Linked DNA regions of Homo sapiens. The protein of the gene in region 1 purifies or fractionates together with the protein of each later gene. This does not show direct contact. Each region holds a gene or a part of one and is shown in the gene's direction. Other genes may lie near its edges.

Region 1 (7,290 bases):
GCTTGTTATATTTAGAAAAGTTTGCCTAACCAAAGGTGATGGAGCTTAATGCCTATATTTTCTTCTAGGAGACTTAAACTTTTAGCTTTTACATTAGGTCTACTATCCGTTTTGAGTTAATTTTTGTTTTTTAATTTTTTTGTTTGGTGTGTATGTGTGTACATATATATATATATGTACATATATATATATACACATATAGAGAGAGAGAGAGAGAGAGAGTGAGAGAGAGAGAGACAGAGTCTCTCTCTGTCACCGAGGCTGGAGTGCAGTGGCACGATCGTGGCTCACTGCAACCTCCGCCTCCTGGCCTTAAGTGATCCTCCCACCTCAGCCTCTCAAAGTTCTGGGATTACAGGTGTGAGCCACCGTACCCAGCCTTGAATTTTTGTGTATGGCATGAGAAAGGAGTCCAACTTTATTCTTTTTCATGTGAATATTCAGTTGTTCTAGCGCCATTTGTTGAAAAGATACTCTTTCCCCATTGAATTGTCTTGGCATCTTTGTTGAAATCAGTTGATTGTAACTGTGAAGGTTAATTTCCGGACTCAGTTCTATTCCATTGAGTTGTATGTCCATCCTTATGCCATTACTGTCTTGATTCCTATAGTTTTGTAGTACTTTTTGAGATGGAAAAGTGTGAGTCTCCAACTTTGTTGTTTTTCAAGTTGGTTTTGACTATTTTGGGTCTCTTGCATTTCCATATGAATTTTAGGATCAGATTGTCAATTTCTGCAAAGAAGCCTACTGAGATTTTAATACCCCCATGTTGGCAAGAGTGTGGAGTTGAGTCAGTACATCAATTTGGGGAGGGAATATTGGCATGTCAACAATATTATGTCTTCTGATCCATGGACATAGGCTGTCTTTCTGCTTATTTAGGTCTTTTTAAAAACTCTTTGAACAATGTTTTATATTTTTTCTTTTGTTCGTTTTCCTTCCTTCCTTCCTTCCTTCCTTCCTTCCTTCCTTCCTTCCTTCCTTCCTTCTCTTTCTTTCTGTCTTTTTTTTTTTTTTTGTCCCACTGTCACCCAGTCTGGAGTGCAGTGGTGCCTGGCTCACTAACTACAACCTCCACCTCCCTGGCCCAGTGTGTCCTGCACTTCAGCCTCCTGTGTAGCTGGGACTATAGGCACACACAACCATGCCCAGCTGATCTTTATATTTTTAGTAGAGATGGGGTCTCACCGCATTGCCCAGGCTGGTTTCTAACCCTTTGGCTCAAGCCATCCACCTTGCCTCAGCCTCCCAAAGTGCTGGGATTATAGGTATGAGCCACTGTGCCTGGCCCATATTTTTTCATAATATAAGTTTTGTATTTCTTTTGTTAAATTTATTTTTTAGTATTTGTTTTTGATCCTATTGTAAATTGTTTTCTTAATTTTAATTATTTTTGGATTGTTTATAGCTAGAGTATAGAAATTTAATTGCTTTTTGCACATTCATGTTATATCCTGTAAACTTGCATAACTCATTTATTAGTTCTATTATGTATTTCTTTTTAAATTGTGAAATAACATGTATGTGGTAAAAAGGTCAAATAGTGCGCAAGGGAATATAAGGAAAAGTGAATCTTCTGCCCTCTCACCCCTGCTCCCACTAAGCTAAACTATTGTTTAGTTTTTCTTAAGCTGTTTCAAGCTGAAGAAAGGAGTGGGATATTAAAAAACAGTGCTTCACTGTTAGCTGAATATCTTTTTTTTAGACAGGGTCTTACCCTATCACTCAGGCTGGAGTGCAGTGGTACAATCATAGCTCACTGCAGCCTCAGCCTTCTGGGCTTAAGCAGTCCTCCCACTTAAGCCTCCTGAGTAGCTGGGACCACTGTTGTGCACCACAATGCCTGGCTAATTTTTTTAATTTTAATTTTTGTAGAGGTAAGGTCTCCCTCCCTATGTTGCCCAGGCCAATCTTGAACTCCTGGGCTCAAGCAGTCCTCCCACCTCAGCCTCCCAAGGTGCTGGGATTACAGGCGTGAGCCACCGCACTGGGCCTTCTTTTACTTTTGACCTTGTGCTTGTTTTTTTCTTCTTGGAGGATTACATATAAGTCAACTAGACTCCCTAGTTTATTCTCTTTTTACTTACACTGTTAAGAAAATGAGATCTGGAATGTGAAACAGATGTGATTCCTTATCTGATTCTGTCTTCAGGGGTCAGAAAAACCTTTGGTGTGGCAGAAAGACATGGGTATTTGGGTGTTTATACCTGGAAGAGATTTCTTACCCCTAACATGGTCTTTGTTGGGAGAAACGAAAAATAGTGCATGGCTAGAAACTAGGTTTGTGCCCAGGACCTCTGGCATGAGGACTGGAAGAAAGTTACTGACGATTAATGTTCGACTTCACCCTTACTCTTTTAGTCCCAGTTGGGTCTTATCCTGGATTCTTCACATTTTTAACTGCTTCTGTTAGCATGCTCTAAATGTGAGAGTTCTAATTGTTTGTTGGCGTTTGTGGGCAAACAGTAAATGGTCAGATTAATACCAGGGAATATCAGAAAATTAACAGGTTTCAAATTGCTATTTGTAAACCTAAAGGCTAAAAGTAATACAATTAAATAGGCAAGTATATGTGGTCATTAAAATTCAAGTAGGCAAACAATCAGATAATTGTATGTTGCATATTATCCTGATCTCTTTAAGCACAGTGTTATCTTTGGGAATAAATTATTAGATGTATAAATTACTTTTATCTCTGAAACATCATGTTGAGTTTACCAGTATTACAGCCAATCCCCCAAAGCTTTCTGTTTGCCACAGTTTAATTTACTAAAGAATATATAAATACCAGTGAGGGACAGGACAAATTCAAAGAGGCATTTGAACCCAAAATTATTTCTTAAAACCACTTGAGTTAAATATATTCAGGTGAGAAATTCACGTGTGAGTTCTTTTTCTTTTCTTTTAATGGAGAGGACCAGCCATGTGGGTAGAGGAGAGAAGTAGGGCTTCAAAATACAAGACTTAGTTTTGAAGGGGTGGGAGTGCCAGGGAGGGGACTAGGAGAGGCTGGTCATGAACCAGAGTGCTGTGACTGTCCTGGACAACCTCCCTGTTAGATGGGCAGAGGTGCAGGCACTCTAGAGACCCTCCTGGAGAACCCTGCTGAGAGGTTCCTCGGCTATGGCAGAGCTACCGATAATTCTTCCTTAGGGCAGGTGTTCAAGGCAGGCCGGCTTTAGTGGCTCCATGCCACAGCAAGTTCTCTAAGCTCAGTGGGCCTCAGTTTCTTTATATGTGAAATGGGGATGGTGGTGTTTGCCTCAAAGTATAGTTTTAAAGACTAAATAAGTTATCATTATTATTTTTGTTTTTTTTTTAGAGACAGGGTCATACTTTGTCACCTAGGCTGGAGTGCAGCGGCACAATCTTGGCTCACTGTAGCCTCGAGTTCCTGGCCTCAAGTGATCTTATCTCCTTGGTCTCCCAAAGTACTAGGATTATAGGCGTGTGCCACTGCACCCAGCCTGAGTTAAATGTTTTTAAGATGAGCTTAACTTGTTCAGTAACAATAAAATAATGTATTTTGATTTTTTTTTTCCCCTGGAAAGTATGTTGTCAGTGATCATGGAAAGGCCTTGGGATGCGGTGTACATGCTTTCATTTGTTTTGTTTTCATGCCTTCAAATAAAATTTTAAAACTATCTGGGCCGGGCATGGTGGCTCATGCCTATAATCCCAGCACTTTGGGAGGCTGAGGCAGGTGGATCACCTGAGGTCAGGAGTTCGAAACTAGACTAGCCAACATGGTGAAACCCCGTCTCTACTAAAAATACAAATATTAGCTGGGTGTGGTGGCGGGCGCCTGTAATCCCAGCTACTCGAGAGGCTAAGGCAGGAGAATCGCTTGAACCTAGGAGTTGGAGCTTGCAGTGAGTCAAAATCGCGCCACTGCACTCCAGCCTGGGTGACAAGAGCAAGACTCTGTCTTAAAAAAACAAACAAACACTTTGGGAGGCTGAGGTGGGCGGATCACAAGGTCAGGAGATCAAGACCATCCTGGTTAACACAGTGAAACCCCGTCCCTACTGAAAATACAAAAAATTAGCCCGGCGTGGTGGTGGGTGCCTGTAATCCCAGCTACTCGGGAGGCTGAGGCAGGAGAATGGCATGAACCCGGGAGGCAGAGCTTGTAGTGAGCCGAGATCGCGCCACTGCACCCCAGCCTGGGCGACAGAGCAAGACTCCGCCTCAAAAAACAAACAAACAAACAAAAAAACTATTTGAACTTAAACCCCAATAATAGTAGATATTTTATTTTCCAATCAGTTGTGTCTATAGAATGTCTTTTGATATGACAATGGCTGAGAATTCTTTGACAGGTTTTGCAACTCAGATTTTCTCAAAGAATCTTGTTTACCTTCCATAGCCCCTTTGTTTATTGAAAGCAAAATATTCTTAGTTCCCTTGAATCCCAGTGTTCCTGCCATTCTGGATGTCTCCATGCTGTGGCGTGGGGCCCTTTTTGGGGTGGGATTCCCCAGCACAGAGCCTGCTAATACATAAGGGTGTGGTACTCCCATTGAGTCTATTTGGCATCAATCAGCAGGCGGGTTTGCACTGAGCGGTACTAATCCTAGCTTGCCCAAGCGATTGTAGTTGTTCTTTTAAAAGCATCATCTTTTTTTGGTCTCCTGGCCTAAAATTTCAGAAGCAGGAACTGGGGGTTATGGGGGTTGGGTATAAAAGGTAGCTAAACCTGATTATCCTGGCTTGAAATAATGGCAGGAATAATAGGCTTGTTAACTTTGATCCTAGCTGTTACCTTCTACTTACCAGCCTCCCTGCTGAACCAGCCTCTCTGCTGAACCAGCCTCTGCTGAACCAATTGGAATTTGGTGGGGACTCCTCTGAACGGCTTTTCTGGGTCCTCACCTTCAGGATACTGCTAGATGTGCCCAACAAGTATCTCCCATTCCCAGCAGGGATACTTTTGATTCTTGGCCTTCCCGAGAGCCTCAGGCCTGGGATTGGCCACTTGGGTCCAAGCAGTGTCTCTAGTTTGGCATAATTGGGCTACTCCGAGGAGCAGGACTCTCAGCTGTTATGAGTGATGCTAGGAGCCAGGCACAGTGGCTCACGCCTGTAATCCTAGCACTTTGGGAGGCTGAGGCGAGTGGATTGCTTGAGCCCAGGAGTTCGAGACTAGCCTGGGCAACATGGGGAAACCCCGTCTCTACTAAAAATACAAAAATTATCTGGGTACGATGGCATGCATCTGTGGTCCCAGCTACTCAGGAGGCTGAGGCGGGAGGATTGCTTGAGTCTGGGAGGTCAAGGCTGCAGTGAGCTGAGACTGGGCCACTGCACTCCAGCCTGGGTGACAGAACGAGACCCTGTCTCAAAAAACAAAACAAAAGACACACAAAAAAGTGATGCTAGGGAGGCCTTTGGCAGAGAATGGATTTCCTTAATTGTGAATGTGGTGGTGGTGCTTCTGGAAATGGAAATCAACAGCACTTTGTGGAGGGGCTTTTGCACAGAATACATATATGAACCATAAAGAAGTCCCATTTCCCCTCCCTAGGTTCTCTTCATACAAGAAATGGTAGTTAGCTCCATTGTTTCCTCTGAATACTTTCCTTTGTTTTCTTTCTTGAAGGACTGCCACCAACTCCTGTCCAGCTGCTCTATCCAGTGTCCCGATTCAGCAATGTCAAATCCCTCCAGCACCTTTGCAGATTCCGGATACGACAGCTCGTCAGGATAGATCACATCCCAGATCTCCCACTGCCTAAGTACAATGGGGTTGTCAGGTTTGGGACAGGAATGAGTAAGGGGGTTGTGGGGAGGTAACAATGTCAGTGAGGCCTGCAAGCTACCTTCACAGGCAGAGTCTGGCATAAAATATTTGCAGATGTCATTCTTACACATTTCCTGTGTCTTAGCACCTAACTCTAGAACTGTCATATTGCAGCCAGAGGGAGGAAGGTGTGTGTGTCAGCCTTCCTTCTGCAGTCTCTAGGAAGAATAGAGTAGAAGTGGTAAGAGTAAGGAAGACAGAACTATAATAACTGAGAAAATGGGGATTGTGTTAGGTCTCAACCATGTAGGGAGTGAAGAAGAGTTGAACAAAGGAGTTACTTCTTTTATATTTTGTATAAAAACCTTTTGTGTATATCCGTCATTTGTTTTTCACAGACCTCTGATCTCTTATATCCGAAAGTTCTACTACTATGATCCTCAGGAAGAGGTATACCTGTCTCTAAAGGAAGCGCAGCTCATTTCCAAACAGAAGCAAGAGGTGGAACCCTCCACGTAGCGAGGGGCTCCCTGCTGGTCACCACCAAGGGTATGAGCTCTCTGCCTCACTGCCCAGCCACATTTCTTCCTGGGCAGTCATCATCATGCATTGAGCCTTGGGCCCCCTCCCCACAACTCCCAACATGGATAGCCCCGATCCAGGCATTTGCCCATAGAATGACAAGATCTGACCGTGGAGTCCTCAAGGGGCACACACCCCATTTGGGAGAAAAGCAGACAGACGAGAAAGACAAGAAAGTAGATTGCCAGGAAACGTGCAAGCTAATCACTGAATGTGAGCAAGGAGGGGGACACCCAAGTGTAGCTAAGAGTGCGGCCTCTGGCAAGGAGAGGGTAATTGAAAAAAATAAGAAGAAGAGTGCAGCCTCCTCTCATACAGACTTGGGCTGATCTCCCTGATACTGCACAAATGGCATATAAAGCAGGAAGCTAAAGGGAAAGGAAACTTCATCAAAGAGAATGCAAACATGCCTTTAATTGCAACAGGCATGCACTTCAGTGAGACTCCACCATGTCCCACAGCTTGGAATATGGGGATGAGGAAAAACAGCCCACTCTTCTATTTAGCGTTCCATTTGGGCCATTACAAAGTAAATTGTTGAAACTAAGGAATTCATTTATCTACGAGGCTCTTCTCCCATCATTACACAGTTCTACCCATTTATTTTCCCATAAAACATCTTGCAATACTGGTTTGTGCAGATGAATTCCAATTAGTCTTTTAAATTGCACTAAAGTGAACATTGTGGGGCCAAGTTCCTGAGTAGGGAACACAATTGCCAGGGAGCCATGACTTTGGTGGTGGTGGTGACAAGCAAGATTGACTGCCAGTGTGCAGTGACTGCTTTCTTCTGGTGTGGATCCTGGAGTAGATGTACAGTCTCATCATGTCTTCAATTATATGCAAATTGTATGCCTTTGGAAATGACTAAATATCTAATGTCTTGTGTCTAGGTGGATTTCTCTGCATGATGGCTTTGCAGTTGAGATTAGGGTGAGAGGTAGAGCACTAGGGAGGTCCACCTA
Region 2 (5,654 bases), on another chromosome or scaffold:
TACTGAATAGTGCCTGACTCCCAAGTCTGTTGATTTGCAGCAAAATTATATTTTTAAACGTTAAAAGCAAATGTTACTTCTTTTTCTATTTTGACATTTCTTTTACAACAAACTCTAATCTGTGCTAAGATAGATATATGCCTTTTGTTTTGGAGACAGGGTCTCAGGCTGTGGTGCAGTGGTGTGATCTCAGCTTACTGCAACCTCCACCTCCCAGGCTCAAGCAATCCTCTTTCTTCAGCCTCCTGAATAGCGGGGACCACAGACACACGCCACCATGCCTGGCTAATTTTTGTATTTTTTATAGAGATGGGGTTTCGCCATGTTGCCCAGGCTGTTCTCAAACTCCTGGACTCAAGCAATCCACCCACATCACCCTCCCAAAGTGCTAAGATTACACACATGAGCCACCACACCCGGCATATACATGCCTTTTGTTGGGTAAAGAGAGAGCTGGTACTGGAAAAGGTAAAAGAGAAAAGAATATTTAATGATTTTCTGATAACTCTTATTGTAAACTTAACAGTAATTAAGGAAATCATCAAGAAAAATTTTGATAAAATGACCTAGATGAAAAAGATTTATTTCTTTAGAAACTTAAAAGTGACTGGGCATCGTGGCTTACACCTGTAATCCTAGCACTTTGGGAGACCAGGGCAGGGGAGTATTTGAGTCTGGGGGTTCAAGACCAACCTGGACAACATAGCAAAACCTTGTGTCTGTATTTAAAGAGAAGAAGGGGAAAAAAAAAACCTTAAAAACATTTAATTGAGTCAATATAAACTGAAGATAATATTTGTAGCAAATATAATTAATTAATCTGGTAAATATATAAAGAGTACTACTTAATGACTTTTAAAACAGACCCCACCTGACCTGTACTGCTATACAAAGAAATAACTGAATACAAGGGAAAAATTTGGTGTAAGGGGTTTGTTATATTTTAATTAATGTTTAACATGATACCAGGTTATATACACATTGTTTTCACAGGTAAGATAACTTTTAAGAATGTGAATGGCATGGGAAAAAAGGAATTGAAGGAAATAATATTAAAACATTAGGTGTAGTTTTCTTTCAGCAGAGAAGCAGAGGTAATTTTGCTTTTCCTTATTTTTCAAAATCTCTATAGTCAGATTTTTTTTAAATACATACTTTAAGTTCTGGGATACATATGCAGAATGTGCAGGTTTGTTACATGGGTATACACGTGTCATGGTCATTTGCTGCACCCATCAACCCGTCATCTACATGAGGTGTTTCTCCTAATGCTTATCCCTCCCCTATCCCCCCACCCCAATAAGCAGATTCTCTTTTATGGGGCATGAGAAAACAAAAGATGTTTTTATTTGTTAAGTAAAAGATACTAGTCTCAACATTAATCCCCTAGTGATTATTATTCATTTGGGTAGATGTTGGATAGAGGATGAATATGCATAAAAAGTCATTTTTCAGTTTGTTGTACTTAAAATAATTTCGTATATTAATGCGCTTTTATTTTTATTTTTTCTTTTAGGAAGCTATCATACAAATAATGAAAATGAGAAAGAAAATTAGTAATGCTCAGCTGCAGACTGAATTAGTAGAAATTTTGAAAAACATGTTCTTGCCACAAAAGAAAATGATAAAAGAGCAAATAGAGTGGCTAATAGAGCACAAATACATCAGAAGAGATGAATCTGATATCAACACTTTCATATATATGGCATAATTTTGAATATCATGGACAATATTTAGAACCCAAATTTTGGAGTGCTTGGGCAGAAAGTTGTAAAGTTTGTGCTGGAGAAAGGTTTATTTGGACTTTGATTACATAAATATTAAAATCTCTGCCTTACCTTACAAAAACAACTATATTTTGCCAATCACATTAGTTAGCATGATGGCATTCCCTTCATGTTGCACACTCTTTGACAGCATGCTGTTTTGTGGAGAAACTTGCATTCATGAAGAGCCCATTATCAACTTTTAAAAGTGAATTTGATTTGTACCCACCAGGAGAAATACAGTTGGGAAGGGTGAGGGTGGGGTTCTTGTTGCTTTTTTCTCTTTTTTCCTCTCTTAAAAAATGTACTTGCACAAGGAAGGATCTTCAGATATTCATGCACTGAAAAATGCTGTTATCTTTTGTTTTTAAAAAATGCAATTAAAACTAGAAATAGCACTCTTGGTTTCTTTTGATGAAAAGAGTGAGCTGGTCAATGCAACATTGGGAAACGGCAGATGTAGGTGAGAAGTTAAGTATTTAATAGTATCAAATTGTTCAAACATTGCTCAGTATAATAACTGGATTTTAATGGTGACCTAAAAATGGTATTAAATATTTTCAACTTTCAAATGTTGGTTTTCTTTAAGCAGGAGACTGCTATTTTAGTTGTTGTTAAATGATGAGGAGTTTTTTTTTTTTTAAATATGGCTGGAAAGCTTGTTTTGAAAAATGAAGCTTATATTAATTGTTGCTTCAATAGTTTAAAAAATTTATGGAGATAGGTAGGTCATTATGATTGCAGAGCCAAAATAGCAAAACAAACATATTAAGTGTGTTTACTAAACATATTGTGTGTTTACTAACACACTTAATGTTTATATACCTAATATTTATTATGCCATATCTGAATTTATTAAAAACAACACAGAAATCTCCTGCTCTGATATAGTTATGTAACTGATCTCTTAATCTGTAGCATAGAAGTATTTTGGTATTTTAAGGTCTCATGATTAGGGATTTGTAGCCTCAGGTTTGAATCAGTCACCTAGGGGTAAGAGAAAAACCACAACATAAGACCTGAAAAACAGAAGCAAAATTGTTGCACTCTTAATACGAGCAGTAAACTTGCCAAATATATGTACATATATATTTATATATTTTAAAAATAAACATTTTTTAAATCGTCAGAAGGCAACATTTACCATGTTCCTTTCAGTCTATCCAAAGTAGCAACTTAACTAGTTGCTGGCAACTGAATACCCAGAGTAGTGGAAATTTTAGGACTTGAGGACGTGAACAACTTGAAAGAGAAAATTGATTCCCCTTGAGGAAAGAATGGCTCAACGTGGATTTTTATTCATTGTGGTGCACGTTTCAAATTTTCTTGCAAATTATTTTATATCTTATTTGATGTTAAGTAATATTTTTAAAGTATGGTTTTTGAAGATAGTAGGAAATGGAGTACAGAAAGGCATACAGTATTATGTTACAGTGGAGTGCTTTCAAGAGCATTTCGTAGGATCTGTCCCCATCCGAAGAGGCTTTGTGAACTGCCTGCTGAATGGAAGGAAAGCAACTTTAAAACATTTAGAGTTTTGCTGAGTATAGCCAAATGCCTGTTCTGAAACTTATAGGAAATTGGAATTTTGTTTAAAATTTTACACTTTAAGGTAGCAAATGTCAATTATTAGACCGAGCATATTGTGAAGAATTAAACTAAAATTAATACGTACAGTTTTCTCTAATTAGGTGACTGTTCATAATGGGTATATTTGGAATTTAGAAGAAATAATTTTGTAGTAATTGTGGCCCTTATGTTTAACAGATAATTCAGCATTGGCGTATTTGCTTGTCCCAATACAAGAATGCCAAAGGAGGAAACAGGAAAAATTGCCGTCCATTTTAAAAATTTAGGTTTGTTGTTTTAAACCATAATTGTTCTCAGAACTTTTTTGGAACTTCTAATTTTGGGTCATTTAATTTAAGAATGAGAGTCATGATGTTTTGATTTATGAAGGTGAATTTAATGCAAAAGTGGGTAACACTACATTCATAGCAAAGTTTTTTATTAAATTTTATAAATTTTTAATAGCCAATTATGTCCTAATTGTATTTTGGGGAATGAACAGCAGCAAATACTGTAAATGTACAGTTTTCTTTTTTTTTTTTTTTTGGTTATGTATACAAAAGTTTTAACTACTTTTTGGTGTTTATGAAAATCATTTAGTTGACAAGGTGCCTATGCCATTGTTAAATTTTCTTTAAGTAATTTAACAACAGATTTGCTAATTTAAAAAAAAATGAAAAAAAAAATCTTACCAGCAGTTTGTAAAGGTCTGGAATCACAGTTGGCATCCTTTATTCAGGTCTCTTCTCTCCAGCGTACACTTAAAATTGGTGCCGAGCAGGGATATAACCTGCAGTTAAGTGAAAAGAAAATCCAGCCTCCCCCTCCAAAAAAAAAAAAAAAATTTAATTTTTAAAAATTAGTGGTATGGCAATAAGACACTTCAGAGGCTATCTTAACCTCTGAATACCCATCTTCTAGTTTAAAGACAGAGACATCCCATCTGGAAAATGTTAACTTGTGTTGCCATCTCGTTGCCGGAGTAAGTAGACATAAGACAGAGTTTAAGAAGTAAAAATATAGAAAAATTTTGATGGTCACAATGAGATAAATATTAGAATATTACTATTCCAATGATTAAATGAGGATCTTGAAATAAATTCTGAAGTCTTCCAATTTTTACATTTATTGGAGGGGTCCCTGAGTTCTGTCAACTTTTTTATTTAAGTCTCTTGCTCTTATTTTGTGCATAAATGTTAAACCTTCCAAAAATGAAATGTTAGCTTTCTTTCTTTTACTTTTTATTAAATTTAATAGAAAATATGACCTGAGTAGTTAAAAAGTATTTTGCATTATTTGCAGTAAGATGTCTCTAGCACTGCTCAAAGGGCAAATTTTAAAACTTCAGTCTGGGTGAAAGATTTGCTAGTTTTACAGAAAGATTTGCTATCTTAAACTCAAGCTGGTTTTTCTGTTCTCATGTAAGTGACTGGGATGCTGTCTTATGAATTCTTCCAAGGTCATGTTTGTGAAATAAACATTACATGAGAGCTTTCCTGTCATCTACACTATATGTTGTCTGGAGTGTTGAACAAATTTATTTTAGTTTCTAAGTTGTAATCTATCCTCATATGGTCTATACGATTTTGAATGTGTGCCACTACATACTGAGATGATAATGCTGTACAATTTTAAGTGGTAGCAGTTTCTGTATGCAGTAGGCTGAAATATTTTGATGAACTGCTTAATTTTTGGATTTTATTTTTTAAGTTGTATAATTTATTTTCTTGCAAAATAAAAATGTAATATAAAAGCTTTTACCTATCCAGAAAATGTTGATGTTCTACTATAAAATAGTTACAAAGAGTTTAATTAAAATTTTTATAGTAGGTATATTTTTAAATTTGAAGGTAAATTAATCTCAGCCAGCCTTAGGAATCAGAAATATGAAAAGTAACCCACTTATTTATATTAGACTTCAAATTCTAATTCAAAATGAGAGCAGTCAGGAATGTAGCTTTTCCACTGATGATAGCATGTGGCTATATGCCTGGAAGAGGTAATAAAAAAAAAAAAATTCCAACCTGAAAGTGGTTAATATATTCATCAACTAAGATAGGCTATGTCATAACAAAATTCAAATTTTATAGCAGATAAAAGTAAAAAATGGGCCGGGCTCAGTGGCTCACGCCTGTAATCCCAGCACTTTGGGAGGCCAAGGTGGGTGGATCACCTGAGGACAGGAGTTCAAGACCAGCCTGGCAAACATGGTGAAACCCTGTCTCTACTAAAAATATAAAAATTAGCCGGGTGTAGTAGCGCGCGCCTGTAGTCCCAGCTACTCGGAAGGCTAAGGCAGGAGAATCGCTTGAACCCGGG

Evidence for each region.
Region 2: the proteins of SOCS7 (region 1) and CUL5 purify together in Homo sapiens (affinity purification with mass spectrometry; 5 studies listed by BioGRID and IntAct, with this or other methods). This does not show direct contact.

The regions. Positions count from the first base shown.
Region 1 is NC_000017.11:38,389,707-38,396,996, forward strand, and holds part of SOCS7 (suppressor of cytokine signaling 7), read left to right. Parts: intron 1-5,602; coding exon 5,603-5,738; intron 5,739-6,141; coding exon 6,142-6,262; 3' UTR 6,263-6,292; intron 6,293-7,290. UniProt on the Homo sapiens protein: Substrate-recognition component of a cullin-5-RING E3 ubiquitin-protein ligase complex (ECS complex, also named CRL5 complex), which mediates the ubiquitination and subsequent proteasomal degradation of target proteins, such as DAB1 and IRS1.
Region 2 is NC_000011.10:108,102,674-108,108,327, forward strand, and holds the end of CUL5 (cullin-5), read left to right. Parts: intron 1-1,516; coding exon 1,517-1,711; 3' UTR 1,712-3,533; coding exon of another isoform or gene 3,534-3,614; 3' UTR 3,615-5,088; downstream 5,089-5,654. UniProt on the Homo sapiens protein: Core component of multiple cullin-5-RING E3 ubiquitin-protein ligase complexes (ECS complexes, also named CRL5 complexes), which mediate the ubiquitination and subsequent proteasomal degradation of target proteins.